Regions from separate parts of the Homo sapiens genome. Here region 1 is linked to region 2. A link means that fine-mapping ties the variant in region 2 to the expression of a gene that starts in the linked region. Tissue or cell type: prefrontal cortex. Region 2 holds a variant in brackets; the other region holds the start of a gene. All regions are shown on one strand. Distances are from middle to middle.

Region 1 (8,106 bases), 110 kb after region 2:
AAGAGCACTTCCCACCTGAAGCCTTTCACTTCATGCCCTATCACTCTTAACTTTCCCTTCCTTCGGCCGGTAAACTTGGGGCTGGGTTTACTGGTCACAGAGACCAACTTCCCTCAAAAAAGCAAAATTCAGGAAAGCTCTGGAGGGAGAGGGGCTGGTAATAGCCAAGGGTTGATTACATACATAAGCCAAATTCTTAATGATTATGTAATTAATACATTATAACAATAAATACATAAATATGCTAGTACTTACTATGTGCTAAGCATTCTGCTCGGCACTTTCATGCACCCCTTGGGTAGTAAGAGCATCCAAAGATATTCTAGTTCCTCCCCTGCCTCCATTCACTGCCAAGAAGGCAGCAGCCTGCCCCCCTTCTCCCACCATCTCACTACTGATGCAGGGGCCATCCCCTGGACCCTAGGCATGGCTTTGCTCCTCAGAATGACAGGACCAAAAGCCTTTCATAAAGACTCCAGTGAGGTGACTGATGTCTGGCTTTGTCAATTACAAGTGAATAATTAATACTTGCCAGTAAAGAAATAGACTCATTGTTACGGTGGCCACATGGAGGCTACAAAAGGCCATTTTGTGACGCTTTTGGTGGACCCCTGGGGCCAACAGTGGTCCAAAGAAGCTGCGTTGAGAGTGTAGTCCAATCTTTAAACGTAGGGACTGGGACCCGTACTGTTTTCCAGGAGCGCTTTTCCCGTTAATTAGCTTGTAGCCGATTCATCATCTCATTCAGCTTTCTGGTTGATGACAGCAGCAGAGGCCACTGAACATCAGAGAGGGCATGATTTATCAGAGGGGTCATGTAGTGTTCTACCAGGGCCTTTTACCGGTTTTTGAATTCATGTCTACTTCCTTCTCTGGGCCAGCATCTGATTTGAGTAAAACTCTCCAACCCCACTGGGTTGTACATCCGACTCTTGGCCTAATGCCTAAAGCAAGTTTTTCCTTTTTCATTTTCCAGCAGGGACTGAACAAGGCAGCCTTGGGTGCCTACAGAACCGGTCAGAACTGGCCAGGAAATATAATAAAGAAGCTTAGTGAGCAGAGAGCTAATGCCCCCAGCCAGAGGCTCAGTGCGCACAACTAGCTAGAGGCACTGACTTTGTAAGCAACAACACTATCTTCTTGAGGTCTAATAATTGCCTTGGCAAAGGGCAGCCAATGCCAACGAGGAACCCTGTGTACACAAGTTTCTCATCCCGAAAGTGGACACTGGGTGCTCAAAAAATGCCTTCTGGTGACAGTAACACCTGACCAGTCAAACAAACATGCACGCATGCACATGCATGCATACACACTCTTACAGCATTCCTGCCTGCAGGGCCAAAGCTGCCCTTGCCAAATACAGAGCTGACAGCTGCTAGATATTGTCATTTCAGGGACCCGTTCCCAAAAGAACTACCCAGCTCCCCACCTCCACTTCCAGCCCACTGTTTGAAATTCTACCATTAGTGATAGCAAATATTTCTACAGTGTTTCCCATTAAAGCTTTGTTTCCCATTAAAATGCCTCCATCCTCTGTTTCTTTTCCGGTCAAATGACTTGTAAAGCACCTGCTCTGCATCAAATGGGAACTTCTTTTGTATTTAGCTCTTCAAGATAAACACAATCATTGGCTCCTTTCTTGAAAACCATTTCTGACACTGGAGACTGGGGGAAGGGCAGGGCACTGTATGGAAGTGGAGGTGGGAGGCCACCAGGAGGGCCACAGAGAGAGGGTCTAATGGTGGAGAAAGCAACCATCAAGGCCTTCACAGGCCTGCCCAAAGATATGGACCTGATTTTTGCCCTCTAAGATCTCAGGGACCCAGGTTGCTGGCACAGCCTGTATCCAAGAGTAAGGTGAGACCCACTGCCCTAACTGGGACACAGACAGGAGGCAGGAAATGGGAACACAGGAACCGACAGTCTCCTGATTTGCCCCTCCTGCCAGCAGGCCTGCCTCCGTCTCCCTGCCCATGCTGAGGGCACAGGCACCCAGGAACTAGCAGAAAAAGATCCTTGTCCCATTCTTGGCCTAGCTGGAAGGACAGCTGATGGCTCATCAGCCCTGGTGAGTGTTTCCACTGTGCTGGGGAAAGTAGGCAAGCAAAGGTCAAAATCAGATTCCCTGTGCTGGGGAGGCACCTGGGCTGTCAGTGTCCTTTCCAGCCGGGTTCTGGATATAGAGGGCCATACTTATGTGGAACATGCTACCTGCCCCCATCCCCAAGCAGAGAGCACCTCCTCCTCTTCTTTTGCACATAGGTGGGCTGTTCTTTGGGGTGAGGGGTAGGGCTGACCTGAAAAGTAGACGCCACAACAGACAGGCAAGCATCTTCCTGGTTCTTCAGAGCTCAAGAAAAAAACCACCTTTTCCCCCAGGAGTCAGCCCACTCATCCCCTTCCCCCACTTCCACCGTGCCCGCAGCCAGCTTGGTGAGCGATGCTAGTGTAGGCCAGAAAGCTTCCAAGCGGGTCAGACCTGCTCCTCTCTCATCAAAGCCCTCCGCCCCCAAACATCGACGCTGCGCCCCTCGCCCCACCCATCACACGTTCTGTGTGCCCGAGGCGGCTGCCAGGCGGGCCCAGGCGGCTCTCGCTGGCCCTGGGGGAGGTGACGGTGGTCACGGCGGCAGAGGCAGGGGCCAGCGCTCTGCAGTACCTGGACTCGAGGATGTCGCCGCTGCCGGGCTCGCGGCCGCTGCAGGTGTCTCCGGTCCCTGAGATTAGCACCGCCTCCTCCCGGGCTGGCGGCTCCGGCCCAGGCCGCGCACCTGCTGCTGCGGCTCCCCCGCCGCCGCGCCGGAGCTCCGCGATGTGCCCGCGCCTCCCGGGCAGAGGGTCCGTGCCGCGGGACGCACGGTGGGTCCGAGGGGGAAAGGGGCCGCGTGGGGCCTGAGGCCGGGCCTCGGGCTAGCCCGGGCACAGCGCCGAGCGCCCCCCGCGGGCCGGGAGAGGGGGCGGCCCTTCGCGCATCCTCACGGCCTCATCCCCGTCCCCGGCGGCATCCTAGTCCCCGTGCCCGGCCCGAGGCCTGCGAGGGCCGCTTACCTGGCTCTGCGGCGGGTCCAGGGGAGGGGCCTGAGGCTACCGCAGGGCCCCGCGCCGGGGCGCAGGATGCTCTGCCCCGCTCCGCTGCGCCGCGCTCGGCCCCGCCCCGGCCCCGCTGCTCCGCCCGCCGCGGCTCCGCCCCCACCCAGCGCCCGCCCCTTCGCCGCAGCGGCTGTCACACAAAGGGCAGGAAATGGCTGCGGCGAGGGTCTCTCCACGCTCTCCGCTGTACCGCCGGCGCACCCAGGACCTGCCTCTCGGTTTCGGAGGACCGCTCAGCCCCCAGGCTTCCTGCCCTGGGGGCGGGAAAGGGAGGGAAGGCTTCTTCCACGGCCTCCATCACCGGGAACCACACCTGCAGCAACCCGAGGACGAGAGCTTCGGCCGCGTTCGGATCTTATTGGCCCCACATGATTTCCAAGTGCTCTTTTATCAACCCAGTCTTTATTGATTACCTATCCTGTTCCAAGTACCGTGCCAGGACTTGGGTGTGCACTGGTGTACAAAAGACAGGGTCCTGCCCCCTTGGAGTTTTATCACCTGCCAGGAGAAACAGGTGTAAATTAACCTAGCAAACGTCCAGTTACAGCCCAAAGTGCTCTGAGGAGAAGGAGCAGGGTGAAGTGACAGAAGATGCAACTGGGGCTAGGGGAAGGGGCCTTCCACCAATTGAGCTTGGTCGCTGATAGGGCTCCTTCGCTTAAGAATAAGTTCTTCCGCTCCCTTCCAGTTCCCTGGAGAAGAGTCCCTGAAGCTGCCACCTCTTTTACAGGGGCCTGCCTCAACTTCATTCTGGAAGAATTGCCTAACGGACAAATAGGTGGCAGGAAGCACTGAGAGGACAGGTACCTTTCTCTTCAAGGCTTATCTGCCGTGTCGGGCTCTTTAAAGAAGCAATTATCTGCCCAGCGGTGGCTCACACCTGTAATACCAAAACTTTGGGAGGCCGAGGAGAGAGGATTGCTTGAGCTCAGGAATTGGAGACCATCCTGGGCAACTCAACGAAACTTCATCTCTACTAAAAATTAAAAAAAAAAAAAAATAGATGGGTGTGGTGGCATCCACCTTTTGTCCCAGCTACTCAGGAGGCTGAGGTGGGAGGATTGCTTGAGCCTGGGAGATTGAGGCTACAGTGAGCTATGATCCTGCCGCCGCACTCCAGACTGGGTGACAGAGTGAGACTCTGTCTCAAAAAAAAAAAAAAAAGAATGAAAGAGAGAGACGGGGGGAGAGAGAGAGAGAGAAAGGAAGAAAGAAAAAGAAAGAGAGAGAAAGAAGAGAAGGAAAGAAAGAAGAGAAAGAAAGAGAGAAAAGAAAAAGAGAAAGAAACAATTCTCATTGAAATCCAGCCTGGTAGGCCTTCAGACCAGGCTGAAGTCAGGCTGCACCAAATTCTAACCTTGAGACACCTGAGCAGGTCACTTCACCACTCTGCTCCACAGAGGTCACCGTATCTGCAACACAGGGAATAACAGTTGCCCTTTATACCTTACAGGGTAAATAATTTGAAAACATTTGAGACATTGTGGAGTGTATGTAGATATAAGGAGTGGTTTCCTAAGGCCCACAAATTTATACTTAATCACTCAGCTGTTCCTAATAAGGGCAATTTGTGGAGGAGCCCCGTTATTCAAGCTCCAGCAAAGGACTTGTGGAAGCCTTTGCTTTCCTTTACTGATCTCACCTTATTTCCCACGTGCTCAGAATCCATAATTCCTTGTGGTTTGATCTTAAATCGCTAATTCCAATTCAAATTGCTATTTCGGAAAAAAATGACTTATATATATATATATATACACACACATACATTTCTTCCCTGGTTCAGTGTGAAAAGCTGTGGGGGTGTTTGTGGAGGATGGGTTTAAAAACAGAACTGAGGTTTCCTTTTTAAAAAATGTTTCATTTTCCACCGTGATCCTTGGGATTTCAAGTTCAGTGATTACAAATACTTAACAATGAGAATCCCAATAAATCAGATTTTCATTCTAAGGGGCATATTATTGCAGATGGTATAGTTTTTTGGAAGACGTATTTCTCCCTGTTGTTCCTTCCCTGTCTTTTCACCTTCAGGAACAAGTTGCCTAAAAACAGAAAAGACTATTACATATATATTTGGTTAGATCTTAGGCAAAAATAACTCCGACCTCTGAGTTCTATTTGTGTATAAAGGAGAGCAGTATGGTCTTTTGAAGCCACTGTGTTGGAAATCCAGAGGCTTGCCTTTTGGTTCTAGTTTTGCAACTAACAGAAGAATGATCTTAGGCAAGGAGCCTCACCCCTGTTTCCTCACCTGTTAAGTGAAGTAAGTTGGATGCTCTCCAACTTCCCTCTGAATGTGGAAAATTACATGAGTTAAAGGGCACGTCCCTCCCAGGCTTAAGGCACTTCCCTAGCTCCCCACTGCCCCCCGATGAAGCCCAAACTCTCCAGTGGCCGGAGAGGGTCTTTAAGAGCTGGCAGCTATCTCTCCATGTGAACAAGCTTGCTGTGCTTCAGCTAAAAGGAACAGCTTTTAGTTCCTCAAACTTGCTGTGTTCTCTGTTGTGCTCGACATTCGTACATGCAAGGCTTCTTCAATGGCAGTTTCTGTCCCCCCATTCCCTCCCTCCACATTCCACACTTTTTCCCAGTTTACCTGATGAAGTTCTGTTCATCTTCCTGGTATTCCTCTAGATGTCGCTTCCTCCAAGATTCCTACATGTCTGGGTTAGCTTGAGATTAGTTGTCTATGTGTCCTTAGCTGCCTGGGCTCCCTCTATCACCCCACGTATTAGTCTGCATTATAATTGTCAACACACTTCCCTGTATTCCACCATGAGACCATAAAATCTAAGGGAGCAGGGATATGTCTGTCTTGCTTTCCCATTGCATCCTTGGAGCCTGGTACTTAACAGGAGTTCAGTAAAAATGGATGGAATGAACACCCATAGGTGACATTTTTAAACTTTGCCACTGAAATGTATAGCTGTCTGTCTACTGCCTTCAGATTTCCTTCACATCCAACCCCAAGCTGTGCATCAGCAATGAAATGGTAGAGGATATCAATAAGAATTGCTTTGGTACTTGCAAAGCTGTGGCCCACATGTTGTCCATGTGGCAACATTACCTTGTGTTTTAGAAAAGCTTCAAGTTATAATCCCAGCACTTTGGGAGGCCGAGGCAGGTGGATTGCCTGAGGTCAGGAGTTCGAGACCAGCCTGGCCAACATAGTGAAACCCAGTTTCTACTAAAAATACAAAAAATTAGCTGGGCATGGTGGCGAGCGCCTGTAATCCCAGCTACTCAGGAGGGTGAGGCAGAATTGCTTGAACCCGGGAGGTGGAAGTTGTAGTGAGCCGAGATCACACTGTTGCACTCCAGCCTGGGCAACAAGAGCAAAACTCTGTCTCAAAAAAAAAAAAAATATATATATATATATGTATTTTAAAACTATCAGGAGACCCTGCTTTATAGACACCAGTAATGAAGTATCTGGAATGGGCATGAAGGGAAAACATAAATAATGATAATAATAATAATGGCTAACATTTACCAAGTACATTACCTCATTTAATTTTTCGTAATTTTTCTATAAGGAAAATACAATCATTTTTCCCATTTTTATAATTGAGGCAATTAAGGTTTAATAATTTGCCCAAGGTAGTGAAGTCAAACCCATGCTTTTTACCACAATCTCATACAGCCTCACTTTCCCTCTTCCAAGCTAAGTCCATTTGTTTACTAATATGCTACCTTATTCTAAAAACATATTAAATGTAAGTTACAGGAATACATTATGTTAAAAAATTAAAAATCAGCAAGAAATTTTTTAAAAAGAAGGAAAAGAGTAGAGAGATGAGATGGAGAATCGAATGTACATAAGACCAAAATGTAAACAAAACAAAAATCAATCACAGCTCTACCTGCTATGAGCTTGCTAACACATTTGGTTCTAAGTATTTATGTGGGTGGCAGGAAAAGATAAACTTGATGGTCAGTTACAGAATTTACATTGGCCATTCTGTAGATAGAACCTGACCACTTGCTCAAAATTGCCTCATTTTATAGGCAAGAGAATTGCTTGAGCCCAGGAGGTGGAGGTTGCAGTGAGCAAAGATGGTGCGGCTGCATTCCAGCCTGGGCAACAGAGCAAAACACTGTATCAAAACAAAGCAAAACAAAACAAAACAAAAAAGTATATCCCTTAGATTCTTGTGAAGGTTATATGAAATGATAATGTAACACACTAAGCAGAGTCTGGTACATAATAAATGCTCAAAAATGGGATTATTATTATGATTTTCTTTTTGAGACAGAGTCTCACTCTGTCGCCCAGGCTGGAGTGCAGTGGCATGATCTTGGCTCACTGCAACCTCCGCCTCCCAGGTTCAAGTGATTCTCCTGCCTCAGCCTCCCGAGTAGCTGGGATTATGGGCATGTGCCCCTACACCTGGCTAATTTTTGTATTTTTAGTAAAGATGTAGTTTCACCATGTTAGCCAGGCTGGTCTCGAACTCCTGATCTCAGGTGATCCTCCCGTCTCGGCCTCCCAAAGTGCCAGGATTACAGGTGTGTGCCACCACGCCTGGCCTGTGGCCATCTCTTGTTGCTATTGTGGTGAACTCAAGTGTTGCCAGTATCCACTTCAAGTGCTGTGTGATGCTAATCATCTCTGAGTGAGCAATTCATCTCTCATGATGAAACATTTTTCATCATGTTTAGTGTAATACAGCAAACCTTGAATAACACCATGGAACCCACATGAAGTGACACTAGTGATGCTGAAAGTGTTCCCAAAAAGCAGAGAAAAGTCATAACATTACAAGAAAAAAGCTGAATTTTCTTGATATGTACCATAGATTGAGGTCTGCAGCTGCAGTTGTCCATCATTTTAAGATGAATGAATTTAGCATAAGGACCACTGTAAAAAGAAAGAAAGAAAGAGAAAGAGAGAAAGAAGGAAAGAAAATTCATGAAGCCGTAGCTGCGGCTCCCAGCAGGTATGAAAACCTTGCACTTTTTGTTAAATACCATTTTAGCTCATATTGAAAATGCAGGTTTTAGGTGGGTGCGTTGCTA
Region 2 (8,106 bases):
TTAGATGTTTGGGTTGTTTCTAGTTTTTGCTTTAACAAACAATGTTACATAAGCATCTAGTGTTCCGTTAAGTGTTTCTTTAGCAAAAGTATCCAGAAGTGAACTGCTGGCTCACAGAGTATGTGGAGTTTTAATTTTCAGAGGCAAAGTAACAGATTCTTGATATCTACCAGGGACACAGTAGATACTTGTTTAAATAAGCAGACGACTTGTTGGCAGGATACATGATACAGGCTACAGAAGAAACACTCAGGCCTGAGAGTCAGCAAATCTCATTCCAGACCTGCTGTTGCTATTAATATTAACCAGTTTTTGGGTATTGGACATTGTCTTCCCTTCTCTGAGCCTCAGTTTCCTGACCTGTACAATGAGGGGGTTTGGTCAAATGCTCTCAAGTTCCTGTCAGTGATCAGAGCCCATTTATTATATAAGATTGGTACCTGAGGGGTCCCCAGCCGCTCGATCAGAGGGACCAGGTGGAGCGGGGCATACTTGGCTTCCAGACGTTTCATCCGGACCTCCAGGCGCTCCCCCTCTGCAAAAGGAGTCGCAGAGCAGAAAATGAGACTCAGGGAACACAGGGCAACTGGGGAAGGAAAAACTCCCAAAGGACCTGATGATGTATCTGCATTCCAAAAATGGGATGGAGTGTGTGGAACTGCTCTCCTTCGTTCTGGAAAGTGTGAGTAGTTTTTACAAGGAAAAATGTTCTATGATTTGTCCAAGAATGGAATCGTCTGCCTTCTAGAATATCTCTAGTATAGTGGTTTAATATATTAATATATATATTTAAATTCCAAGTCTAGATATCACTATACTAGAGATATGTTAGAAGGAACAAGGGACAGGGCCTGGAGTGTCATTTCTATAATCTTATAAGGAATTTGTTGAAGAATTTGAATGAATGACAGAATCAAAGATAATAGGCCTCAGAGTCTGTCTGGTTGGTCATGAGGTCAGCAGGCTCAATGCAGGTGGCTAGGTCCATCTTCCAATTTGTGATTCTGTGGCTATTCAATAGGTGTCCAAAGCTTTAACCTTCCCCCTTGCTGACTAGATCTGAGTTGACTGCAATTAGGAAGTGAGAATAAGGTTCAAACGCCAGTTGGCTATTCAGCTGCTGTAGTGGTTTCTTACCTTTGATGTAGACTCTAGGCAAGATGTTTTGGAAGGGTGCGGCATGGAGCAAATCGCAGACCTCCTCCTGAGACTGCAGAGATGGGGGTAAAGAAAGAGAAAACAATTTTCATTTTAAACCAGGAAGATTTTTCATTCCTAAAAACCTGAGCACTGGAGTTAGCTAGACCTGGGTTCAAATCCTGGCTCTTCTACTCACTGTGACCTTGGGCAAGTTACTTAGCTTCTCTGAGTCTTTTTATCTATCTGCAAAATAAGGATGAGAACAGTACCTATTTTAATGGGTTGTGAGGATCAAACGAGAAAATGCATAACCTTGTGGAATAGTCACAGGTACATAATGAGAGCTCAATACATTTTTACTATAATCTTATCAGGAATTTGTTGAATTAGGATGGATTACACAGAATCAAACATATGATGGGCCTCAGTCTGTGTCTTTTTGGTTGTGAGGTCTGTAGGCTCAAGGCAGGTGGCTAGGTCAGTCTTCCAGTCTACAAATCTAGGACTCTGTGTAAAGGCCTATGTCTGATTGGTTTTCTCCACACCAGACATCAACTAGCAAGAAAAGAGGGACGAGAACCCAGGCCAGATTGGTTTCAATGGTTATTTGTTATGTGCAAAGATAAACTTAAAAGCAAACATACAGTGGTTGGAGGGGAAGCTTGGTTAGGGCAAGACGGGAGATAGGGTCTCATGGGCTTACTGTCCTGGGACATGCTCACAATCCCTGGATTTCAGAACAAAGGGGAGGGAAGGAGTCTGGAGAAGCCATCCTCTGCCGGGGTTTGCTTTCTCTTCAACTATGGGCATTTGGATTAGGTAGGATCCAGGCTCCATTTCAAACTCTGACACTTTGGGATTCTAAGCATCTGAGAAAATCAAGATTGCAGGTGTCCTTGCCTTCTTCTACCCCGGGCATGGATGGAACACTGCCAATCCAGGACTCTGAAAGGCCAGCTGTTCAAGAGGGGAGCCCCAACTCCTGTTTAACTGCAGATCAGTCCTAGAAATGAGGCTACCAGAGGAAGAACACTCTGCAGTCCCCTCACAGGAGCCTGATCTGACTGTCATTCTCAGTTTCTTATCCAGAGGGGAAACTTCCCCCTCACCCCTTTTTTTTTTTTTTTTTTGTGAAACGGAGTCCCATTCTGTTGCCCAGGCTGGAGTGCAGTGGTATGATCTCGGCTCACTGCAGCCTCTGCCTCTTGTATTCAAGCAATTACTCCTGCCTCAGCCTCCTGAGTAGCTGAGACTACAGGCGCTCGCCATCATGCCTGGCTAATTTTTTTTTTTTTTTATCATACCTACAATGTGATAGCATTTATTTACATCTAAAAACATGTACAATAATGATATGTATTGTTCAGTGATACATATGTACAAAGTAAAGTAATAAAGAAATTCGTGGGAGTAAGAACTACCAAATCCAGAGTAGTGGTTATGTCTCAGTGGAAAGGGAAGGCAAGGTAGTATGTGGTGGAAAAACACAATTTTTATTCTATTTACAATGTTTTCTTTCTTAAGCTGGTGGTCGGATATATAGGTCCGTATTATTTCACTCTGTTTATCATTTTCTATGTTTGAACCTGGCTAATTTTTGTATTTTTAGTAGAGATGGGGTTTTGCCATGTTGGCCAGGCTGGTCTCAAACTCCTGACCTCAGGTGATCTGCCTGCCTTGGCCTACCCAAGTGCTGGGATTACAGGTGTGAGCCACTGCGCACGGCCCTTTCCTCCTTTCTTAAGTGAGGTGTTTGTTTCTTTCCTTTCTAGTAAATCCCATAACCTGGCCTTCATTGCTATGTCTAAGCTTAGATCCTTTGATTCATCATATAACCTGAAAACTTTGCTTACTGATCATTCAGGCTAATCTTTCATATTCACATGGTGAATTACATTGGATGATTTTTGAATGATGAGTCAGCCTTGCATACCTGAAATAAACCCACTTGATTATATTATACTTTTGATGTATTGCTCGATTTTATTTGCTAACATTTTGTTGAGGATTTTTGCTCTGTATTCATGAAGGATACTGATTTGTAGTTTTATTTTCAAATGCCTTAGGTTTTGGTATTAGGGTAATGTTGACCTCAAAAGATGGGGAGAGTTCCCCTTGTTTGTATTTTTTGGAGACAAAACCACCTTTCCAAAATTATAACAGGGGACATTATGACAGTGAAAGAAATCAGACCTAATGAACCTCATTTTGCTTCTAACCTGGAAGCTGTTCTTGTTCACTCCTGGGCAGAGGCCGGACTAACTTGGGGAATGAATTCAGTTCATGGTTTGTCTCTGAAACAAAATTGATCATAGCCCTTTCCTGAAAAGACCCCTTTCTTGCCTGAGGACCAGTCTGCCTTTGCAGGACTAACAAATTAGCTACAAGATTAGAAATTACAGTTTAGGGGTCACGGAGCCTCTGGCTCCAAGAGTCTGAACCTCCCCAATTGCCCCTGGTGATAACATCATTATTGTAAAACCCAAGATCAGTGCTTGAGATATTTTGCAGACCCTGCACTCCAGTGGATCAGCTGACACCATCCAGACTGGTATCTGGCTCAAGGAGTTCTGCCATCTCACCCAGGAACAGAAAACAGCAAGAGAAACTCACTTCGACCCTCCATGATTCCATCTCCAACCTGATCAATCAGCACTCCACGCTTCCTAAGCTC[C/T]TACCTGTCAAATTATCTTTAAATAATTAAATTATTTAAATTATCTGATTCCCGAATGCTCAAGGAGACTGATTTGAGTAATAATGAAACTCCAGTCTCCTGCATGGCCAGCTTTGCATGCATTACTCTTTGTCCCTTGCAATTCCCCTGTCTGGATAAATAGGCTCTGTCTGGGCAGTGGGCAAGGCGAACCTGCTGGGCGGTTACAGAGGAGACCATGTAGAATTGGTACTATTTCCTCCTTAAATATTTGATGGAATTCACAAGTGAAACCATCTGCGTCTGGTGTGGGTTTTTTTTTTTTTTTTTTTTTTTTTGAGACAGGGTCTTGCTCCCTTGCCTGGGCTGGAATGCAGTAGTGTAATCATGGCTCACTAGTCTTGACCTTCTGGGTTTAGGTGATCCTCCCATCTCAGCCTCCTGAATAGCTGGGACTACAGGTAAGTGCCACCAAGCTGGCTAATTTTTTTGTAGAGACAGAGTTGGGAGTTTTTTTTTGTTGGAAGTTTTTTTTTATAAGTAGGAATGATATTTCTTTAATAGATACAGCACTATTCAGCTTATCAATTTTTAAGTGAGTTTTGGCGGTTTGTGTCTCTTAAGGAATTGGCTCCTTTCATTTAAGTTTAATTTATGGGGTAATTTCCTCAGTCTTTTGTCCTTTCATGGAAAGGAGTCAAGATACTAAATCCTGTTACCAAAAGCAGCAGTAGAGATGTAAGTATATTATCTATAATCATATAGATATGACAAGAGAAAACAACAGAAGCAGTAATATAATCAAATTTTGAAAGGAAGAGAGGGAGAGAGATAAATGAGATAAAATCTCATCTTTCCAAGTAGGGAGTCAGTAAGTATTGTCTAAAGTTGCTAATTAAGAAATAGGTTACCCTCATGAGTGTTATGGAGGTAACTGGAAGAACTGGAAACAGGATAGGCTGCCCTGGGAATTGGGAATGCAGGTGGGCAGAGGTGCAGTGGAGCCAAGTAGGATGTTTTTCATCAAAAGCTCATCTGTAGTATTTGATTTGTTATAATGTGCAATTAAGAACTTAATGGAATTAAGTTATAATGTGCAATTAGCAACTTAAACAAAATGAAGAGGCTGGATTAAATGGTCTCCAAGTCTCTAGAACCAAGAGTCTGTAAAATACAACCACTTTTCTCTTCAGAGAAGGAGAGGCAATGAACATTACTGAGCACTAACGAATGAGCTATTTGCTTTCTGTCAGTCGCCTGCTTTATGCTTCTGGACAGCCCTGTGAGATAGGGCTCACTGTCCCCATCCTGTGGACAAGGACATCAAGGCTGGTAGTAAGGTGAACTTTCCTAACTAGGTCCGCACACAGATGCTTAAATAAGCAGTAAGGCTGACATTTCGATCCAGGAGCCACTCCACTTCGACACCCGTTGTTTTTCCATGGCAGCCAATGCAGCCAAAGCCTTGGGAAGCCTGACTTTCCCCCTTCATTATATATACATGTCATTAAATTGCAAAGTTACCAAGAATAGAAACAGAAAATCACTTAAAATCTTAACACCTAAGAAACTTCAGCCTCACTCACATCTGACAGGATCATATCATTTGTTGACTTATTGGGTTTTTGGTTATAGCAACTAACATTCTTGAAACTGTGGTATATATGCAGTTTGAAGAAGAACAAGAGTCTGAGCTACCTTCTTCTGTACAAAGAAATAGGAAATTACTGATACCTTTATTCCCAACTTCCAGAGGTAGCCTCAATCCTGAATTGGTTTAAATAATTTCTTTGCAGATGGACTAATTTTTATAAATCTGTTGATGTTATTCCAAGTCTATAATTAGACCACTCACGTCAGTTTGTACCCAAAAATTCCTTCTTCCCTGACCCTCTTACCCCCACCCAAAGTTTTCTACCCAGTCTTATCCATCCCATAAAGCCCCATTTAAGTTTTACCTTCTAGGAGTCTTCCAAGCCCCTCCAGCCCACAGTGCCTTTGCTTTTTAAAAACTTACCAGAGCTTTTATTCATTCAGGGCTTCCACTAAGCCATCTGCACATTGGGCTGTCTTATCTAGCCCAGGGTCCTGAAATCTGAGCTGCTGATGGAGGACCAGGGCAGTGACCCACATCTCATGTAAACATTGATTGAGAATCTTCTTGAGGGACAACCCATGTGCAGGACCTGCACGTTCTCTATATTTTTCTCATTGGCATGATATGAGAGGCCAGCAAGAATACAGAGAACATGTGTATAATAGGATCTAGATACCCAACAAGGTTGTACCAAATTCTGAAGACTTTCATTCTGACTTGAATAGAGCCTGAGCCAGAGATTGTCATTCTTTCATTTATATAGCAAATAATAGGCACAAGGCTTTCTGCAAGGTGCTGGAGTAGGTGAGGGAGACCAGATGCACAACCCTTACCAAGATGATGACAAAATAAGTCAAAACTAGAATGGGCAATTCTAGTAAGTGCTACAATTGGGGTATGCCTGGGGTCTATGGGGATGCAAAGAGGAGCAACCAATTCAGACTTTTGGGGAGGATGATAGGGAAGACTTTCTGAAGAAGGACGCTAAGTTGAACCAGGGGTGAGTGTTGGACAGCTAAGGGGGAACAGTACCTGCAAAGGCCCCAAAGCAAGAGGCCACAGTAGGGCAGGGCTGAGAGCCAAGGTAGACTGAAGCTTTCAGTGCTAGAGGAAAGTGATGTGAGACAGGAAGGAGGGGTGGGCAGGAGTGGTTTGGGAAGAATCTTCTAAGCCTCTCTTAGATTTCTAGACATTATCCTGATGGTTTTCATCAGGGAAATGGCCAAGCTGCAGTTTCACCTTCTGGTTGCAAGGGAGAAAGGATTGGGGAGAGCAAAGGGGGTGTTGGAAGAGTCCAAGCAGGAGAAAGCAGGGCCAGGAGTAGCGGCAAAGGAGATAGAAGGAAGTGAGCAGAGGCCAGAGACCTGATGACTGGACCTGAGGGCGGGAGTAAAAGGACCCCTGCCCAGGGCACCTGTATGACGTTGGTACCGTTTATGGAGTCAGAGAACAGCAAGGCTGCAGGCAGGAGGAAGCCAAGGTCAGATTCAGGCAAGGTAAATTTCTGATGTGTGTGGACACGGAAGAGAAGATGTCTAAAAGGCAACTAGATGTGAGGCCTAGGCCCTGCAGAGTCTGCAGAGTAGATCTGAGCTTGGAAGTCAGCATGGGATGGAGGCTGACCCCAGGGGAAAGGAACTGTGCAAGTGCAAGGTTTGCATAAGTGGGTGCTTCTCAGGGTGACCAAGACCCTTCCGGAGACTTCAGTTCCTCTGACTATATGAGACCCAAGAGAAAAACAGCACAAAGTGCTCCTTGAGTTCAAGGGAATACATAAATTCTGAACATTTCCATGTCTACTAGCATACAACCTAAACAGGGATAAAAAGACACCTTTCAAGTCAGAAATAGGGAAGATGCCACTTCTCTGCATTTGCTGCTACCTCTTTATTCCTTTCTTTAGGTCACCAAATATCTATTGAGTGCTTGCTCTGTGATCTGGCAGACAACTCAAAGGCACAGAGATGAAGATGAAACACACCATGGAGCCAGGGAAGGGCCTGGATGCTGTGGGAAACACTACAACAGGTAGAGCTCTGTAAAAATGAGATTTCAATGAAGTTTACCATCTAGTGGAGAAGAGATCCAAGGACACCCGTGACTGAGAAATAAAACAGAATCAATTGGGTGCAATAGGAGAAGTTGCTGACAAAGGGCTTTGGAGACTGAGAAGAGAGAGAAACACCACCAAGTTCCTTGCAGAGAAAGGCATTTGATAAAATGTGTGTTGAATAAAAGGACCAGCGGTTTGTGGAGGATGAGGAAATGATGGCTGTGAGATGGGCCTGAGAGGAGGGGCAGGGTTTTGAACTGGGAGGAAAGGTGCCATCCCATTCAGGAGGAGGATGAAATCAGGGATAAAATGAGGTGGCTGATATGAAAGGAGTGGGGCATCCTTGGCTTGGGCTTGTGAGGAGTGTGGGCCACAGTGCTATGGGCAGTCAGGAGCCAGGCTTTCAGTTCTAACGGGGCTTAGAGAAAAGGCCGATTCAAGTCTCTTTGCTGATGGCAAGAGGAGGAAAGGGGGCTCTTGGTAACCGAGGACCTGCTTCTTAAGCGCTGGAGACTTCGCATTCATTACCTCACTTAACACTAAGAACTCTGTGAGGTAGCTCCTCAGTCCCAGCACTTTTCAGGCGTGGAAACTAAGGCTTAGAGAAGGAGTGTACCATCTTTTGGCTTCCCTGGGCCATACTGGAAGAAAAATTGTCGTGGG

Direction of the effects. Alleles are on the strand shown, and positions count from the first base shown. SD is a standard deviation of normalised expression in the study named.
For the expression in prefrontal cortex of the gene that starts at base 3,121 in region 1, C is the high allele of the variant in region 2 and T is the other (small effect, 0.32 SD a copy in ROSMAP).

What was found. PIP is the estimated chance that this variant, and not a neighbour inherited with it, causes the effect.
Region 1: CYFIP2 starts here. The variant in region 2 is fine-mapped to the expression of CYFIP2 in prefrontal cortex (ROSMAP, PIP 0.95).

What each region holds. Positions count from the first base shown.
Region 1 is chr5:157,261,138-157,269,243 of GRCh38, reverse strand. CYFIP2 (cytoplasmic FMR1 interacting protein 2) reads right to left here and starts at 3,121. Exons shown (of 31, transcript NM_001037333.3): 1 at 3,049-3,121. RefSeq lists an enhancer at 1,905-2,014 and a silencer at 2,695-3,214.
Region 2 is chr5:157,375,694-157,383,799 of GRCh38, reverse strand. CYFIP2 (cytoplasmic FMR1 interacting protein 2) reads right to left here. Exons shown (of 31, transcript NM_001037333.3): 27 at 1,138-1,210; 28 at 441-535. All of the region lies in intron 1 of NIPAL4-DT (NIPAL4 divergent transcript), which reads left to right. Among named protein-coding and RNA genes, the nearest start is that of FNDC9, 34 kb to the right of the region's middle. The variant C/T (reference allele first, on the strand shown) is at 3,815.